2 separate regions of the Homo sapiens genome follow, and region 1 is linked to region 2. Evidence: fine-mapped expression QTL. A gene starts in region 2. The other region holds a variant in brackets. All regions are shown on one strand. Distances are from middle to middle.

Region 1 (4,387 bases), 41 kb after region 2:
GAGGAGCGAGGAGCGAGGGGCGAAGGGCGAGGCCGAGCAGGTCCGGACCAAGAGCCCAAAGTGGGCCCAGAGTGCATGAGAGGACTTGACCCGGGTTGAAATGAGCCCCCAGGAAGAAGGGGAGAGCAAGCTGCTCCTTCTAGGCCCAGCCTGTGGCTCCTCCTGGCCCGAGGTCGGCCCAGGCCGGGGAGACTGTCCCCCAGCCCTGAAAAATCAGCTTTTCTTTTCCTTTCCAGCCAGATGGCCAGGCCGCTGTCCACCCCCAGCTCTTCGCAGATGCAAGCCAGGAAGAAACACAGAGGGGTGAGTGTCCGTCTCAGCCTCTGAGTTGACCAACAAAGGGTTGCCATGAATCCCCTGCAGTCTGGCGGCGGGGAGAACCCTAGGCAGAAATTTCACCATGAAGCTAACTGCTTGGGTTCAAATCCCGGCTCTGTCACTAGCTATCAGGGTGATTCCAGGCAAGCCTGTTAACCTCTCTGAGCCTGATTTGCTCCTTTGTGTAACTGGAATAATGAGAGGGCCCACCTCAAAGGGCTGCTTTACAGATTAAGTGCATTAATGTAATGCTCTAAACAATAGCAGACACACAATAGGCCATTATGATTGTTGTTCCTATCTTCTGTCTCCTCTCTGAGTCCAGAACTTTCATCCCCCTCAGTGTGCCGGGGTGGGGGAGGGGACAGAAGAAGGATCCCCACTTGCCGCTGTCATCTGTCCATCATGTTCAGCCCCACTTTCCTCCCAGGATGCAGCTGTGTTTCTGCACTGGGAGTCCAGACACCTGGGGTCTGGCAGAGAGCAGCCTGACACTCACTGACTGTAAGCCCTTAGGCAAACCACTTCCTTCCAGCCCTCATTTTCCTTATCTGTAAAATGGGGTCATATCTGTCCTGCTCCCGGTGTTCTGCTACCAGTATTGGAGGGAAGAATGAGAGTGTGTGGGTGGAAGGGCCCTGCAGCTAGAGAGAGCAACACGTGGGACTCCCCAAACCATCTCATGACCTCACAGATGACGGGGTCACCCTCCTGGCCCAGCACGGGCCTCCAGGGCCTGCTCCAGCACCGTGGCTGGTGTCCTCATTGTGATTGGCTGTGCCCTGCTGTACCAGTGGTTAAACATCTTGAATATCACCCCTATAGACCGAGACAAGAGATCTGAGTTGTACTCCCAGCTCTGCGCTTTCTTGCTGTGTGACCTTAAGCAAATCACTGTCCTTCTCTGGGCCTTGGTTTTCTCCACCATAAAGTAAGACTAGATTGATCTCCCTCACAAAAATACTGTGTGGGTAAATATGAGTTGATGACCATCAAGGCACTTTGGAAACTGTGATGACACACCTGTGAGTAACTTCTTGTCATGATTGTTTAGATCATAGAGAAACGGCGTCGAGACCGCATCAACAGTAGCCTTTCTGAATTGCGACGCTTGGTCCCCACTGCCTTTGAGAAACAGGTATGTGACATTGCTGATTGTGCTAGAGGAAATACTGTGTGGGTGGCAGATAAGGTTCGTTTCTCATGGCATCTCTTGTTGATTGGTAGCAGCTGCCTGAGATGCTGTGATCATTTACCAATATCTGTCACTGGCCAGGGTAAAAGGAATGGAAATTTATACTTAGGTGTCTCAGGTGTCTTTATGTCTATCATCCCATTGAATTGACTCCTCAAAATGATCCCAAAGGTTAGGGATTATTATGCCCATGGCACAGGTAAAGAAACTGAAGCACAGAGAGGTGAAGTAACTTACACCAGATCACGCAGCTAGTAAATAGCAGGGCACAGGACTGTGTGATTCTCAAGCCCTCATCCCTCTGCACTACAGACATTTCTAGAGTGACTTGAAAGTGGAAAAGGCTGCTCAGGGAGTGAGCACTCTACCATTGAGCATGTTAGGTGGGGGAACTACAGCGGGGAATCAGACAGTGGACTCAGCCTCAGAAATTCTCACCCTATGCACCAAGGCATAGGTCACGGGTCCTCTGCCTTCCTTTATGCTGGTGAGAACAAGTCAGTCATCCCACAGATGTTCACTAAAACCATCACAGGACCAGCCATGAACTAGACCTAGTATCTGCCCTCAAGGGACTCCCATGGAGCCTCTGATCTTCAGGCTTCACCTGGAAAGCTTAGGAAGCATTTCCCAAGAGAGAAAAGAGGAAGAACAAGTGGTCTGGGGATAAGATGATGAGCTAGATCTTGGGCACATTGAGTCTGAAGTTGGATTCCCTGAAGAGCTGGTTTAAGAGGCATTCTGAGGATGGTGGCTAAAGCCATGGAGGTGACAAGCCTCTCTGCAGGGAGCAGCAGAATGCGAAGTGACACAGAAGGGACAGTACTGTGTTAAGAGACGGCAGATCAAGAGGCATGGTGAAAGGAGAGCCCAGAAACAGTGGTGTCGTGCAAGTCAAGGGAGGAGTGGTTTCAGGAAAGATGATCGGCAGCTGTACAGTGGACAGATGGTCTGAGAGGAGAACTGAAAAGAATGTTCTAGATTTGGAGAACTTGGCCAAAGCAGAAGCCCATTTGCAGGCAGCAGTGGAGTGGGAGGAAGGTGAGAAAATCGAGAC[A/G]GTGAGTGCTGATGACACCGCACAGCTACATGGTCAGCTGCAGGCTCCACCCTTCTGTCTTCTGTACCCGCAGGGCTCTTCCAAGCTGGAGAAAGCCGAGGTCTTGCAGATGACGGTGGATCACTTGAAAATGCTCCATGCCACTGGTGGGACAGGTACCCATGCTCTTCTCTTTCAGGCGTCATTCATACAACAAATATTTTGAGGCTGGGCCCTGGGGATATGCTGGTGAGCAAAGTCCACACGCTGCCCACTCTGAGGAGCTCAGTCAATGGAGGGAACATTTGCAAAGCTTCTCTCTCTCCTTTCAGCATCTCCCTCTCCACTTTCAGTGTCTCCATTTGTCGCAACCTTTTCCTCAGTTCAGCTCCCTCCAGTCTTAGACCTGGGAGGCGCTTTCTTCTGTAACAGACTGTTCCTATGGGTCCCACTCTTGTCCAACCCAGGACCTCATTAAGAATTCACCTGAATGAGCTAATTCTCACTGGGATCCCAATCTGACCCCCCTTAACCCAGGGAGGAGCCTGGTATCCTACCCACTGGTCTAGCCTTCTGGGCTACTGTGGGGTCCTTGGCAGAACTGGGGTGACATATCATGCTCACCACAGGTCTCAGGATTGTAGCAGGACACAAATTAACTCATTTTGTTATTTTAAGCCCATCAGTTACAATAAAGTAAGGGAACAGTGGCTTTAAAGACACTTCCAGACAAATAGAAATTCTGTCTACTCAAAGTTTCTCTGTGTATTTGGTGATTTCAAAATTGGGAAACCTTGAAAGCTCCACAGGCCTTGGCCACAAAGACCTAAGTTCCAGAGACCTAACTTACTGCTACAGAAGAGGACAGTAGCATTTTAAGTGGCCCATTCTGGTGCTTCTGAAGCCTCAGTGTATACCATTGTCACCTTGGGGCAGGCAGAATCAGGAGTCATCCCCCAGAGATTCTGAGGCAGTAGGTCTAGATTGAAGTTTAGGAGTTTGCAAGTTTAACAAGCCACCCAATTATCCTGGTGCAGGTGGTCCATTTGGGAACTTCTGCCAAAAAAAATGCATTGCTAAGAGTGGAGACTTCCATCTCTAATGAACCAATGGGGGAGATTCAAATTACATTTATGGTTATCCAGTGAAAAGAAAAGTAGTGACTAATATGTGGATATCATTTGACAGTTTTAAAATGCTTTCACTTGTGTTGTTTCATTTGATTCTCACAAGAACCTGCAAGATGGGGGTTAGTGTTACCACCATTTTCTGACTGTGAACTAATGGGAAGACAGAACTGTGGTTCACGGTATAGGCTTTAGATTTGAATCGGGCTCTACTGGTTACTAGCCGTATGACCTTAGACAAATGATTTAACCTCTCCCCTCCTCAGTTTCCTCATCTCTAAAATGGGAATAATTAGAGGGTTTTATGAGGATTAAATTAGATAACTTGATGAAATGCTTAGTAAGAATTCAGCAAATGTTAGAAAAAAACAGCGGGCCGGGCGCGGTGGCTCACGCCTGTAGTCCCAGCACTTTAGGAGGCCGAAACAGGCGGATCACAAGGTCAGGAGATCGAGACCATCCTGGCTAACACGGTGAAACCCCATCTCTACTAAAAATACAAAAAAAGAAATCAGCCGGGTGTGGTGGTGGGCGCCTGTAGTCCCAGCTACTCGGGAGGCTGAGGCAGGAGAATGGCATGAACCCAGAAGGCGGAGCTTTCAGTGAGTCGAGATCGCACCACTGCACTCTAGCCTGGGCGACAGAGCGAGACTCCGTCTCAAAAATAAAAGAAAAAGAAAAAGAAAAGAACAGCAAAGGCCAGGCGCAGTG
Region 2 (4,387 bases):
TTCCTGAGTTACTTCATCATTCTTCTCCATGAGGCACCTGAGAATAATTGACCTCATTCCTAGAGTTTCAATTATTTATTGCAGTGTAACAAGCTACCCCAAAACTTGGTGCCTGAAACAACAATTTATTATTTTTGATGATTCTGTGAGTTGGCTGGGCTCAGCTGGAAGGTTTTACTGCTTCAGGTTGTGTTGGCTGGCGTCACCCACATAGCTGCACTCCACTGGGAGCTGAGCTGGGGCTGGGACAGCCAGGATGGCCTCATTCACATGTCTGTCAATTGTGCCTATAGTCACCTGGGCTGTCGCTAGCTTCTTATCCTCCAGGTCCTATCTGTCTCACTACGTGGCCTTTCCAGCAGGATAGTCCAGACTTATTTACATAGTAGCTGGCTCCCAAGAGGGCAAAAATGGAATCTGCAAGGCCTCTTAAGACGTAAGCTTGGAAACCACAGAGCACCACTTCTACTCCATTCAATTGGTCAAAGCAAGTCACAGGGCCAGCTCAGACTGGACTCCACCTCTGAATGGGAGGAATGTCAAAGTCACATTTCCAAAGGACAGGCAGGATGGAAGAGGTTTTTGGGCCATCTCTGGAAACAATCTTCTAGAAGTAAGTCTAAACACACTTCCCCCAATCCTAACATTTTATTATGATTTTTCCCTTCCTCCCACACAAGGGTTGGTTTATTCCTCCCAGGACCTGGTGGAGGCTGAGGGGATCACTCCATTCTGTAGCCCCCTCACCTCCCCAGTCAGAGGCCCTCCTAGCTAAGCCAGTGTTTTCTCCTGCTTCTCCCACCCACCCATGCACACCTCTGAGAGAGGCTGTCTGCTTCCTGGCCTGTACCTTGGGATGGGTGACATTTGTGTCTGCACCCTGAGACTAGTACAGAGCTCTGCATCAAGAGGGACAACACCCTGGAATTCCAGGATGGTAGTTCCGAGGCCCCTCTTCTGCCCTCCCTCTATCCAGCCCCTTCATGGCCTATAACAAATCACCCCAAGCTGGGCAGGTGGGGGCCTAGGAATGCGCGCCCTCTGCTGACCACCAAAGGGCCAGCAAGAATTCGGGTTCAGAGTCCCTGGGAGTCTCTCTGGCCTGGGTCCCCACCCCAGGCCAAGGTCTCGACCTGAGACCACCCGAGCCTGGTCTCAACATGGACTTCAAGGGCCCCTCCTAGGTGGTGTGGAGGAGCTGCCGGGTTGGGCCCTTCACTGAGCTCCCGCTGGGAGCAGGCTTCTGCTAGTGAGAGGAGCCATCCATGCATCACCTCCTGCCCGTCTGCCGGATGGACTGGCCTCGGAGGGAAGGGGACATCGTCAGGATCCCAGGGTCCTAGCTCCTAAAGGAAAGATGGGCAGCTAGCTTTTGGGAGGGGAGCGGCTAGCTTTTCATTTTGTCCTTTGGGGATCACTATCCTGGGGGAAAAAAAAAGTTGTCAGGCCTCTCCTGTCTCCGCGCCCTGCAGCGCCTGCGAAGAACATCATTTTCGCAATCCCCAATCCGCTGCAGCCCACAAACCCAGAGAGCCAGAGAGCCCCCCTCACCACCCAACCGGCTGCTGGCGTGGGTCGGTCGGGGAAGGAGAGCCCAGCTATCCCTCATACCGTACAGCAGTAGCAGCAGCAGCGGCAGCGACACACGGGCGACCGAGAGGGCCAGTGTGACCTCCCCCCGCCCGGCGGGCGGGGAGCCCAGCTCACACGCACAGCCTCCTCGCCGCTGCCCGCCCCCTTCCCTCGCCGGGACTCGCCTCCCTCCTGCAGCCCAGCCCCAGCCACCTCCGCGTCTACGCCGCCGCCTGCTCTGGCCGGGCCGGGTCAGAGCCGGAGCATGGAACCTGGGCAGCCCCGGGAGCCCCAGGAGCCCCGCGAGCCCGGGCCAGGAGCGGAGACCGCTGCGGCCCCGGTCTGGGAGGAAGCCAAGATTTTCTACGACAACCTCGCGCCCAAGAAGAAACCCAAATCGGTAAAAGCAATGCACGGGTATGCGGGGGACGGGGGAAGGGTTACCCCGGAGGAGGGGTCATAAGTCTCTTGGGAAGGGACCCGTGGCGCCCCTCTGGGAGGGGACGCAGCTCCTCAGCCCCAGAATGCGCCCTGCAGCTGGCGCGGGCTCGGGTTTATTTTGGGAGCTCTGCTCTGGTGTATTTTTTTACCGGGACTCGGGTTCCACGCCAGGCTCCCCCTCCCCCATGCTGTCATCAGGGCCCAGCTAGAGGCCCGCAGCCCCAGCCCCTCCCCACTCGGGCCGCCGGGGAGCGCGGATTGCACTTGTTGGCGAAGCTGGTCCGCAGCGCTTCCAGAAGCGCCCCAGGCGCGGGTAACCAGACTTTGGGAACCCGGTTCCTGGCTGTGCGCTCCGGTCTCCGCCATCTGGGCATCGGGCTCCGGACCTGAGACTCTGCGTTTGGGGTCTGGCTCTGGGTCCTGGGCCCTGGGCTGGGGGCAGTGCGCTCCCCGCGTCCTAAGGAAAGGGAGCTGCTCTCTCCAGGCACTGGGATCCACACTCTGCGCTGGGGGGCGATCGGCGCCCCTGGCCGCAGGCTCCCAGCGCTGGACTCTGCCCCCCAGCTCGGGTTCTGCTCCCCTTGCAGTGGGCATTAACATCCCCACGACCCTGTGGTGGTGTCAACCGTCTGGGACCTCACAGAGGAGCTCTCTCCTCTCTGCCATCAAACAAGTTGATGATGCCCTGGTCTGCCCCTGGACCTTGCTGTCTCCAACTTCCCAGATCTCAGAGCTTGAGGAGAAAACCGAGAATAGAGGTTGGCCCACAGCGGTCCTCCAAAGAGCTCCAGCTTGATCTTAAAGCAATTTGCTGCTTCCCTCCAAGAACCCTTCCCCAACAGGTCCACCCTATCAGCAATCATTCAATTAGCACCTCCAAGCTCTGCTCAAGAGTGGGGATTGAAGAATTAAATAACCTGAGTCCCTGCCTCAGGAGCTCACTGCACAATGATGGAGGCTCCAGAGATGAGAGCCTAGGGGAGTTGGGGGGGGAGTAGAGTAGTGACATCACACTGGGGAAAGCTTTGTAGAAGTGGCACGTATCCTGATCTTAAAGCCTGAGTAGGTGGAGTTTCCCAGGGAGAGGGAAACAGGACAGGCAAAAGTCATGCAGATGTCTCTGAAGCTCAGGACTGTGTTCCTGAATAAGTACTGAATGAAGAATGCAGGATTGTTGGAAGAAGAGCTGGAGGGATGTGGAAGAGCCCACAGAGGGCCTTGGGGATCATGTTAAGGAGTCTGGACCTTACTCAAGGGGGTCAGGGATTTCCAAACTAGCTTCCCCAAGCCCCATGTTTCAGGGAGTCTGCACACATGTGAATCCAATTTATTTTCTTTCTTCTTCGGACTATGTTTTAAACAATTAAAAATGTGTAATAAAACCCAACTCACTCTAATGTATTAGGTGGACATTTTAGCAGCTTGAAGGCCACTAGCTTGTGCTGCAGATTTTTTTAAAGCAAAGCTCAGAATAAGGCTTCCCCTGTGATCTGTTCCATCAAAGAGCGTCTTGAGATTGTAAGGCCTTTAGTTTAAAACAAACCAAAACAAAAAACCTTTTAGCATTTCCAACCACTTATTGGTCTGAATCAGGACTTTCTCAATACTGTACAAATACAAACACAGCAACAACTTGGCCGGATGCTGAAGCTTAAGTCTGCACTGGCATTCTAGCCGCTAGTTTCAAATTTGTTGTCATGCAAACAACTGTGTTGTTTTCATTGGTTGACTTTATAATAAATAAATAAATAAATGTAATGCATTTGAATCTGTAAAATAAATAAACACCAATTATATATGTTATATCTGGTACCATATGGTATGAGATATATGGTAATATCTGGCTTACATATTGAATTCAAAGTTTATTTGAATTCATTTAAATAAAAGGTCAACCTACATTTAAACAAACATATGAATACCATTATGGAGCTATTACAGGATTTTTCATCAGGGGATTAACTGGGTCCCATTTTTATTTTAGAAAGATCACTCTGGGATGGATTGGAAAGGGTGAGTCCGGCAGCAAACCCACCAGTGAGAAGGCTGGTGCCTCTCTGAAGAGGAAGCTGGATGAATGTCAATGCTGTGGCCTGAGTGATGCAGAAGAAGGGATGGAGACTGGGGACTGGGGCAGTGAAAGCATCAGTGCTCAAAATCCATTTCCTCCCCAGGCACCAAGGAACCGGAGAGCTCAGGCCCAGTTGTCAGTCATGACCCCTGGATCAGCCCCTGACTCTCATGGTTCTCTGGGAGGCAAGAAGCCTGGAGGCTTCCCAGCTCCTATTCCTTCCTGCAGAAGCCCCTCTTCCCACAGGCTATTTTGGGGGCTCTAGGCCTCATGGGCCCCATCATGGCCTGGCCTGGGCTAATT

What was found. PIP is the estimated chance that this variant, and not a neighbour inherited with it, causes the effect.
Region 1: its variant is the best candidate, but not a certain one, in a credible set for the expression of NT5C1A in cerebral cortex (GTEx, PIP 0.86).

Annotation. Positions count from the first base shown.
Region 1 is chr1:39,628,565-39,632,951 of GRCh38, reverse strand. It overlaps HEYL (hes related family bHLH transcription factor with YRPW motif like), which reads left to right. Exons shown (of 5, transcript NM_014571.4): 2 at 237-303; 3 at 1,373-1,456; 4 at 2,644-2,725. Among named protein-coding and RNA genes, the nearest start is that of HEYL, 8.9 kb to the left of the region's middle. The variant A/G (reference allele first, on the strand shown) is at 2,571.
Region 2 is chr1:39,669,489-39,673,875 of GRCh38, reverse strand. It overlaps NT5C1A (5'-nucleotidase, cytosolic IA), which reads left to right and starts at 1,769. Exons shown (of 6, transcript NM_032526.3): 1 at 1,769-1,972. The coding sequence starts at 1,838. RefSeq lists a silencer at 1,577-1,986.